Linked DNA regions of Homo sapiens: region 2 is linked to region 1. The links come from fine-mapping of genetic effects on gene expression. Tissue or cell type: activated CD8 T cells. Region 1 holds a variant in brackets; the other region holds the start of a gene. All regions are shown on one strand. Distances are between the middles of the regions. Region 1 has its middle 31 kb from the start of AS-PTPRE. Region 2 holds the start of MKI67 (marker of proliferation Ki-67).

What was found.
Region 2: MKI67 starts here. The variant in region 1 is fine-mapped to the expression of MKI67 in activated CD8 T cells (Schmiedel 2018, PIP 0.95).

Annotation. Positions count from the first base shown.
Region 1 is chr10:128,090,858-128,096,235 of GRCh38, forward strand. No RefSeq gene overlaps it. Among named protein-coding and RNA genes, the nearest start is that of AS-PTPRE, 31 kb to the left of the region's middle. RefSeq lists enhancers at 530-1,031, 1,032-1,531. The variant T/G (reference allele first, on the strand shown) is at 2,419.
Region 2 is chr10:128,124,083-128,129,460 of GRCh38, forward strand. MKI67 (marker of proliferation Ki-67) reads right to left here and starts at 2,341. Exons shown (of 15, transcript NM_002417.5): 1 at 2,017-2,341; 2 at 1,494-1,674. The coding sequence starts at 1,585. RefSeq lists a silencer at 2,121-2,490 and an enhancer at 2,601-2,830.

The DNA.
Region 1 (5,378 bases):
ACCACCCACTGTCATTAACCGGGACAGGGAGGGGGTGGTGTGTTTTATGAATGGACTTGGTGCCTTCCATAATTCCCTCATCCTCAGAATCATGAACCGAGACACATACTTTGGGTTCTCCTTTCTGGGATGAGAGACGTGCAGATCTGTGTGGTCCAAGTTTGAATACTAGGGCCATCCTGCCTCTTTAGAATTCTGGGACGACCTCTCTTGCCAGATGCTGTTCCTCTGCCCTAATGGAATGTGGCGTCACAGTGCAGGGCTGAGGTCAGATCCACTCTTCTTAGTGGACACGACCTTCAGTTTTATAGAGCAAGAGGGTCTCATCTTAGAATATGTCTTTAAGTGACTGATTTTTAATCATTTACTTATTTGTTTGTTTATTTATTTATTGAGATGGAGTCTCGCTCAGTCGCCAGGCTGGAGTGCAATGGCACGATCTCGGCTCACTGCAACCTCCGCCTCCCGGGTTCAAGCGATTCTCCTGCCTCAGCCTCCTGAGTAGCCGGGACTACAGGCACCAGCCACCACACCCAGCTAATTTTCGTATTTTTAGTAGAGACAGGGTTTCACCATGTTGGCCAGGATGGTCTCGATCTCTTGACCTCATGATCCACCTGCCTCGGCCTCCCAAAGTGCTGGGATTACAGGCGTGAGCCACCATGCCCGGCCTAAATGAATGATTTTAAACCATATCCCTTTTCAAGTCACAGCAGTGCAACGCCTTAAAATCCAAGGCCCGTTTCCCTCTTGCTTTGATTGGTGGGCACAACCCTTAGTTCTTAGGAACCCAGGGGAACAGAGGTTGGGAAGAGAACTGCCGTGAGAAACCCAAATTGTTTAGGTGGCATCTGGGGTCAGCTAGACATTGACGAGGCAGCTCTGTGATGCTGGCTGGGCTTATTCACATTCACGTCTGGGGATTGGCTGGTAGTTGGGTAACCCCAACTAGCCTGGGCTGGGGGGCCGGGGTAGCTCAGCGGTCTTCCATATGGCTGTCGTCTTCCAACAGGCTCGTGTGGGTGAAGGCAGGCACAGACGGTGCACACACATGGCCCATTGCTTCCCCGACCAACCTGGAATCCAAAGGAAGAGGCAGGCGAGCAAAGCGGGCTGTACAGAGGAGGGGGCAGAGGTGCTTCTGAGAGGGGTATCGGACGGTGCTCAGGGAGCCTCAGGGGCCACCTAGCGTTGTGTTACCTCCAAAGCAGTGCTTTCTCGGAGTAACAGAGGGCGGGCCCAGAGCCAAATAGCTGGATTCTGAAACACAAAGAGCTACCACGAGACTAGTTTTTATTACACTAAAAATTCTTCATTAAGTTTTTATCATTGCCAACCTAAATCTATATAAACATATAATATATTTTATGTATATATTATTTTTACTTAAATATGTATGTATATATTTATAACATTTTATATACATATTTGTGTATAAATTTTCATAGATAATATTTATATATTTATATAGAACTTAGGTTGCCAATGATGAAAACCTAGTGAATAATATTTAGTATATTTATATATTTTATATAGTTATGAATATATAATATACTTAAGTTATATACATTACATTAAATATATTTAATTTATATTATACACAATATATTAGATTATATCTATAGTTATCATATTTATATATAAATACATACGCTTATATATAAATATAGGTAACTTTTCCCCTAAGTTGCTCCTATAGTTGTTTTTGGCTCTAGGGGACATGGAAGCAAGCAGGCAGATGAGGGGCCCAGGAATAAGTGACTCACTTCAGCACAAGCTGCATCTCCCGAGCCAGGGTGGAAATTTAGGAATTTGCTGATACACAGTCATGCCCCTCCTCCCTCCCAACATCAAAATTGACAGTGCTGCCTGGCCTGACCCGCCTCCCCTTGCTCATATCAGCCTGGCCTGGATCTGAGACCCCTGCCCAAGAGGGGCCTTGGATATAATTGCACTTCTCCTTTTCCAGACCCCACACAAGAAATAAGAAAAGCCTGGAGTCGTGTCCAGTCCTGACTGCTCCTTTCCCAGAGTTCTAGGCCTCTCGAAGGCTGAGGCCACGCTGGGATAAGAGGAAGACGGCACCGCTTGGAGACCTTCTGAGAATGGGGGCCAGGCTACACAATCCACCCGAGTTTTCTTCTTTTGTCCTCACAACCCTACGAGGCAAGAAATTGCCATCTTCACTCTCCCAGCTAGGGAAACTGAGGCTCAGAAAGGCCAAGCAATGGGCCCAAGTCATGCAGCGAGCAAGGGACAGGGCTGGGATTGGAAGCCAGGCCTCTCAGCTTCCAACGTCCTGGGGCTGGGAGCCGGTGGGGGTTCCAGGGCCCGGGAAGACCCCAAAGCCCAAAGTGAAATGCACCCTCTGCTCATGACCCGTTATATTGCAAGGGCTGCTAATTTCAATGTGATATG[T/G]CCTAGGAGGCATATATGTTAAATCACTCATTTCTCTAGATCAGGGATATGCAAACCAAGGTCCTCAGTCAAAATGGGCCCACAGCCTGGTTTTTGTTGTTGTTGTTGTTTTCTTGCTTGTTTTGTTTTGTTTTGTTTTGCTTAAGATGGAATCTCACTCTGTCACCCAGGCTGGAGTACAGTGGGCTGGATCTCAGCTGACTGCACCCTCCGCCTCCCTGGTTCAAGCAATTCTCCTGCCTCAGTCTTCTGAGTAGCTGGGATTTCAGGGGCCCACCACCACACCTGGCTAATTTTTGTATTTTTAGTAGAAACTGGGTTTCGCCATGTTGACCAGGCTGGTCTCGAACTCCTGGCCTCAAGTGATCCACCCGCCTCAGCCTCCCAAAGTGCTGGGATTACAGGCGTGAGCCACCGTGCCCAGCCCCACAGCCTGTTTTTATTAGCCATTTTTTGGACATGCCTGTTTGCTTGCGTGTTGCCTACAGCCGCTTCTGTTCTTTAACAGCAGAGGTGAGTCAGCATAACAGACAGTATGGCCCACGAAGCCGCCATATTTACTGCCTGGTCCTTGACAGAAAAAGTTTGCTAATTGCTGACCTGGATTAAAATCCACAGAACCTTTTCTATGCAGGGATGTGCTTCCCTATGTCCTGGCCATGCCTGGTCCCAGCACCACCTGTTTTAGCCAGACCTGTGTCTGGGCCAAGCTCAGCAAAGTTCTGCGATCTGATGTCATTTAAAGACACTGTTGACTGGGCATGGTGGCTCACGCCTGTAATCTCAACACTTTGGGAGGCCAAGGTGGCTGGATCACCTGAGGTCTGGAGTTTGAGACCAGCCTGGCCAACATGGTGAAACCCTGTCTCTCCTAAAAAAAAAATTACAAATATTAGCCAGGTATGTGTGGTGCATGCCTGTAATCCCAGCTCCTCAGAGGCTGAGGCAGGAGAATCTCTTGAACCTTGAAGGCAGAGGTTGCAGTGAGCCAAGATTGTGCCACTACACTCCAACCTGTGCAACAGAGTGAGACCGTCTCAAAAAAAAAAAAATAAAAGACAGTGTTAATATGGTATCAGATTGTGGCTGCCACATCACACATATTCTTTTCTCCTGCAGAGGCCATATTCAGTTTGGATAACCCTGAAATTTGGTTACTCGACTCTTAGTTAAATAATGTTTCTTTGCATTGTTGGTGGTTTGGGTAGTTTTCAATACGTGGGCTCGATGAAGACATAGACATATTATTCAGGATTTTTATTTTTCTTTTTTGAGACAGGGTCTTGCTCTGTTGACCAAGCTGGAGTGCAGTGATACAATCATAGCTCACTGCAGCCTTGAACTCCTGAGCTCAAGCAGTCCTCCCACATCAGCCTCCCAAGTAGCTGGGACTACAGGTATGTGCCACAATGCCCGCTAATTTTTTCTTTTCTTTTTTCTTTTTTTTTTTTTTTTGTAGAGATGGGGTCTCGCTATGTTGCCCAGGCTGATCTTGAACTCCTGGCCTCAAGCGATCCTCCAGCCTTGGCCTCCCAATGTGCTGGGATTACAGGTGTGAGCCACTGCCCCTGGTTATTCAGGCCTGTTACGTTCCAGATTCTTCCTTCACTTCCATAGAGAAATCCCTAGTGATAAAGAATTTATGAGCCAAGGGAAATATCTTGGAGTTTTAGGCATCTAATAAATATATTCATCTTCTGATGATGATGATAATTAGCATGTATTGATGCTTACCAAGCTCTGGGTAAAATGCTAAGTGTTTTACACATATTGTCTCATTTAATCTTCTCAACAATGCTATGTGCTCAGGTACTGAACAGCCTCATTTTACAGATGGGAAACTAGCAAAGTTGAAAGACTGTCCACGTTCACACAGCAGCAAATTAGACAAGCTGGAATTTGCACCTGTGCATTTGACTCCGAAGTCTGAACTCTCTCTAGGAATTTACACTCTGCAAGGGTGTGGAACACATACCAGACATCACATAAACTTTACAAATGATAAAGGAGCACCTGCCCTAACCCCAAGCAGACAGACAACAAGGGCCAGGATGGATTTTAGAACACTCTGACCTGTGAGAGAGGCGGACAGGCCTGCACCAGCTGTATTTCTGTAGTGACATACACAGGTGTATCACGCAGGGAGCCTGTCCAGTCACGGAGCCCTGGGACTGTACCATCAACACAGTTTTTGTTTGTTTGTTCTTCAGGTGACATCGAGAGCTCCCCCTGGGAGGTGGGGTTGGGGATGCTCCTTAGGAACCTCACTGGAAAGATGAGTCAAGCAGGTATCCAAGTCCAATTACCCGGCTCAGGGCTTGACATCACAGATGTGGGACTTGCCTGAGATGGGGCTGATGAGCAGGAAGCTGATTGGGGCCCTTGCAGGGCAACACACAACAAACCAATCAAACCTCCTTCCTGAAATCACTGTGCGCGCTGTGGGGGTGGCAGCGGGGGAGGGGGGGCGTGGCTTCCTGCCAATACATCATGGGTATTATTTGTTCCCTCATGAAGAGCAATAGCAATGAAATCCACATTTCCAAATTATGGAGTGCTGTGTGCCTACGTGGCACTCAATGCCAGTAATACCAGGATGGGGGTTTGGTGACTGTGTCCTGGAGATGCCTTGGGGGTCTGGGAGCACCTGGACAGCACAGAAATCAGTTTCTCCAGCTGTAACCAGAGTGCCAGGAGATTCCTGCAGTTCATCTAGAGGACTTTTCCAGGAAACCCAGCAAACAGTAGGATCTCAGCCACACGAAATCATTTAGTTAAGTAGCTACAGTTTACTTTATGGAGTCGCCGTTTGCCATGTTAATTCTTGATGACAGCCCAGGATGTGGGCTGCAGACTGAACCCACTTCCTTCACCAGACTGACCACCGAGCACGGCTCTCCCTCCCTCCTCAGCCTCTCAAGATGGTAGATGCACCCACCTGCAAACTTTTCTCTCCGACA
Region 2 (5,378 bases), 33 kb after region 1:
TTATAAAATCTTGCATGAAGATATATTCAAGGAGTACTGTATAAAAAAGCAAAAGGACTGCCACTGGAGATGAAATGTTTATATTTTTCCTTTTCAAGAGAAAGGTATCTATGGAAAGTGAAAAGCTTCCTTAACCCCAATAAAATAATTTGATTTTAAGGTAACAGGACATCAGAGCAAAGGAAAGACTATCCCTTACAACTGAGAATTTGTTTGGCAGGAGGACGACTATAGATGGGTGTTTCTGAGCTTTGGCACTGTTGACATCTTGGGCCAGATGCTTCTGTATTGTGGGGGCTGCCCTGAGCCTGGTAGGATGCCCACCCTGACCTCTCCTCCGCGATGACAGCGCATGCCCCTGTCCTATATTGTGACATGGAAATTCAAATGAATCCTGGAAGGTTAGATGACCCTCCTGTGAGAACCACTGTTCTCAAGAGATTGCAAATCCATGGCTCCAGCCCATGTTTCTACTGACCCTTGCCAGAATGCTAGGTATTGATCACACCCCCTATGCCAGACACCATCCCTGGCCCTACACACGTGATTAGTAACAAGACAGTCTTTGCCTTTGGGGAGCTCAGCCTAGTGGGAGACAAACCCACAACTCACCCCTGAAGCTGTGGGGTTGGAAATACAAGTTTTCATGCAAGGCTTCCTCAGAGGTGACATTTCACCTGATGCCTGAATGATGGAAATCACACAAGCTTGAGGAAGGGGAGAACTTTCCCATTGTAAACTTCCAAGTGTGTAAGAAGTACCAAGGTGAACAAAGGCTTGGAATGCCTTAGGCGGGAGGAACAAGGTAGGGGATGGGGTTGGGAGGACAGGGTGAGGCCGGGATGGGGTTGGGAGGACAGGGTGAGGCCTGAATCCCGTGTGGTCTGGGAAATGACCACACGGGAAATGACCCCCCTTCTCAGGCCTCTAGTGGGACACATGTCAGAGGCTGATGGGGCACTGTCAGCAACTATACCTGTTATACAGGGACAGGGTTATTACCACCACCAAACAGGACAGCAATATAAGAGGAAACGTTCTCGAATTCCAGGCAGGAAGACTTTCTGTCCCATTTTCCTATTGCCACAAGGAGCCAAGAGACAAGTGTATGGCTTCCTTCCTTCATTCTCTGTGTCCCCAGTGGCCAGGGATGCCCACTGTGGAGGCACCCGGGGGCGCACAGTGTCTTCAGACGCCTGCCTGCAGCCAGTGACATATGAAGATCATCTACATCTTTCTTTACCGCAACATTAGCAAATCGATTTTTTTAATTGGCTTGATTTTTAAAACCACTTAAACATACAAACTAGCATCAAATTTATACTTACAAAACAAAAAAACACAACTATGTCAACTTAGTAACGAATGGGAGAAGCACCAAGGAAAAGTGACGGCAGGACCCAATCCTAGAGCGCGTTTCTGGACTTTATTCTGTGACTAAGGTATTTTCCTCTTTCTCAGCTAAAACGTCCGCGCGCGCCCGCGGGGCTCACCTTCCAAACAAGCAGGTGCTGAGGCTCAGGGGAAAGTGGGGACCGTCGACCCCGCTCCTTTTGATAGTAACCAGGCGTCTCGTGGGCCACATTTTCTAAACAGTAAGTTGAGTATAATCCGTAGGGGAAGGCCAGGTATAATCCGTAGGGGAAGGCCAGAAGCAAATTTACAACTCTTCCACTGCAAAAGAGGTGCGAGTTACTCTGATAGCAAAGGAGCTAAGAAGGGCCCCGTGCCCAATTCACCTATCCCCGGCCACAGAAGCGCACACCGCAGCTAGCTAGCGGGGACCCCAGGACGATCCGACCGCAGCCCCCGGCGCCCCAAAGTCCGGCAGCTGGGGTGTTGTCGCCAGCGCCTGCGCCTCCTGGGAGCTTCCACCGAGACGCCCTCGCCAGAGCCCAGGAGGAGTCGGGCCCAGGCCGCGCGTCTGTCCCCTGCCCGTCCCCGCAGAGCTCGGGGGGTCCCCGCGGCTCAGCCCTCGACCCCGGACAGCTCCCAGGAGTCCCGGCCGCAGCTCACCTGGGACGATCCGGCCCGCAAGGCCACTTGTCGAACCACCGCTCGTCAAGTCGCACCCAAAGTCCGCCGCAGGAGGAGCCGGCGCCGCGCTCACCTCCGCCCGGTAAGCTGCGCCCGCCACGCTCCGCACACACCGGGCCGCAGCCCGCGGGGTCGCGTTCGCTGCACCCCGGCCTGCAGTCCCCGCTGCTCCCGCCGCCGCCTCTGACGGGGACCCGGTGGCCCTACAGGCTACGTCCCCGGGCGCCCGGCTCTAGCGGCTCCCACCGAGTCGAGTCCTCCCGCCCGCCCGCCCGCCCGCAGCGTCAGCCCTCCACTTCCTTCTTCCAGCCCGGCGCGCCCGCCCAATTCAAACGAAAACGAAGATTCAAATTCTGGCGCTAAGCGCTGCGATTGAACGGGAAAGCGCGGCATGGGACCAATAGGAAGGGAGCGCAGGGCGTGGGCGGGGAGGGGGCGGGGAAACCGGGCTCGCGGGGCGGGGCTGGCGTGTCCGCGGGCGAGCCACTCACGCATCCGGAGGAAAATACCTGGGTGCATCCCCGGCGAGGGCGGCTGGCGGAGGGCAGAGGTGGAACACGCTCCCACCGAGATAACCCGTCCTGCTATCCTTTTCTTAAAGGACCAAACATCTGGGACACTATAACATTACTCATTGCCAGAAGATTTAAAACTGCTAAAAATTAAAAACAGGCGGGACGCGGTGGCTCACGCCGGTAATCCCCGCACTTTGGGAAGCTGAAGCAGGAAGATCCCTTGAGCCCGGGAGTTCAGAACCAGCCTGGGCCACCTGGAGAGAACCCATCTCTACAAAAAATTCGCCAGGCGTGGTGGCGCCCCTGTAGTTCTAGCTACTGGGACAGCTGAGGTGGGAGGATCGCTTGAGCCGGGGCGGTCGAGGCTGCAGTGAGCTGAGATCGCGCCACTGCACTCCAGCCTGGGCGACAGAGCAAAGCCCTGTCTCAAAAAAAAAAAAAAAAAAAAAAAAAAAATCGAAACCTTCCTCTTCAGTGCATACATCTTACCAAACACAAAAACAACCAATTATATAAAGTAGTTTGGTGTGTCTTTTCCTGCTATACGTGTATTCTCTTTTTCAAAAGCACAGAAAAAAAGGTCATAACATACACAACACGATTCTATACTTTGTGCTCTCTGCTTTTAAATATCCTGAGGCTATCTCCACTGAACACATTCTCGCTTTTACTCTCTGATGGCTGCAGAGCACTGGGCTTCGGGAAACCATAATTTACTTAATCATTACTATTGCCACATACTTAGGTTTACAATGTTTTGTTATTAGAAAACATTCTTCAATTGAAATGGCTTGTGCATGCCAAGATGGGTGAATCCTAAAATAATTCTACACAGGATTCTATCGGGGTCTGCTTCAGTTGCGCTGGTGGCCATGTGGGCTCAGTAGGCCACCTGGGGTGAAGTGAATGGAGCCTAAACACGCTTTTGGTGACAACGGCCTCTCTGCCCCATCTCACCTCCTCCAGCTCCCCAGCAACCCTTGGAGCTTGGCTCCCTTGATCAGGGAGGCCTCGATGCAGGGGACCCCTGAGGACTTCCTATTCCTTTCAGAGAGTCCATAAGGTCAAAACCATTTATCTAATGACCCTCTGTGTTACTTGCCCTTCTCATTCTCATGCTCCCAAGAGTGTGGGGTGTGGTTCTGCAAATGCAGAAGCAGTGAGGAGACTCCCACTGTCTCCGTTTCAACCAGGTATTACAGAGATTTGCAAAAATGTGAACTAAAGCGCTGTTTTCATTTTGTTGTTTTTTTTCCATAAAAATAAGTTATTGGTGTTAGCATGAAATAGGTGCATCACTATCTTAAAATGAATCAATAAATGAATATTTTTAAATTCCTTAGCCTTAACTTAAAATATATAAATATAGCTAGATATAACCCATCCACATTAACAAAAATTCCTGGTGGTTCTCAATAATTCTTAAGAGTGTAAAGGGACCACAAGATTGAAAAGACTGAGCCCTCTGCTCTAGAGCAACTACAAAGATATCAGCTGCTGATGGAAATAGAGAAACTGGGAAAGCAACATAAAAGCACAGGACAGCAACTCTAAATTGTATGGGCCAAGTCTGACGTAGAAAAATTCAGTGCGGGGATACTATTATATAAACGTTTTAGGGGGCATGAGTTTCCATGTTTTCCCCCATTAAACGATCAAACAAAGCCCACCACTGCATAACCCCATAAAACACAACTTTTCTCATCCTAATTACTGCTTGTTTCCAGAGACAGTTCTTCCACCCTCATGGATGCAGCCTAATTAGAACTAGAAGGTGCTAGGCCAGGCGCAGGGGCTCATGCTTGTAATCCCAGCACTTTGGGAGGCCAAGGTGGGTGGATCATGAGGTCAGGAATTCAAGACCAGACTGACCAATATGGTGAAACCCCATCTCTACTAAAAATACAAAAATTAGTCGGGTGTAGTGGCACACGCCTGTAGTCCCAGCTACTCGGAAGGCTGAGGCAGGAGAATCACTTGAACCCGGGAGGCAGTGGTTGCAGTAAGCCAAGGTCACGCCACTGCGCTTCAGCCTGGGCAACAGAGCGAGACTCCATCAAAAAAAAAAAATAGAAAAGAGAGAGAGACAGAAAGAAAGAACGAAGGAAAGAAAGAAAGAAAAAGAAAGAAAGAAAGAGAGAGAGAAGAAAAAGAGAGGAGAAAAAGAAAGAAAGAGAGAAGAAAAAGGAAGAAAGAAAGAAAAACATTTTGAGTTACTTCTTTGAAACATTTTGAGTTACTTCTTTTCTGTTGTTGCTGTTGTTGTTTTTCTTTTTTGAGATGAAGTCTCACTCTGTCCCCCGGGCTGGAGTGCAGTGGTGCAATCTCTGCTTACTGCAACCTCCGCCTCCCAGGTTCAAGCGATTCTCCTGCCTCAGCCTCCCAAGTAGCTGGGATTACAGGTGTCTGCTGCTAAGCCCAGCTATTTTTTTTTTTTGTATTTTTAGTGGAGATGGGGTTTCACTTTTTTTTTTTTGAGACTGAGTCTCACTCTGTCACCCAGGCTGGAGTGCAGTGGCACAGTCTTGGCTCACTGCAACCTCTGGCTCCTGAGTTCAAGCAATTCTCCTGCCTCGGCCCCCTGAGTAGCTAGGACTACAGGTGTGAGCCACCACGCACAGTTTATATATATATATATATTATGTGTGTGTGTATATATATGTATGTGTGTGTGTGTGTGTGTGTATATATATAGTATACTGTCGCTATATATATGTATATATGTATATATATGTGTGTATATATATAGTATACTGTCTCTATATATAGTATATAGTATGTGTGTATATATATAGTATACTGTATATATAGTAATTATATATAGTA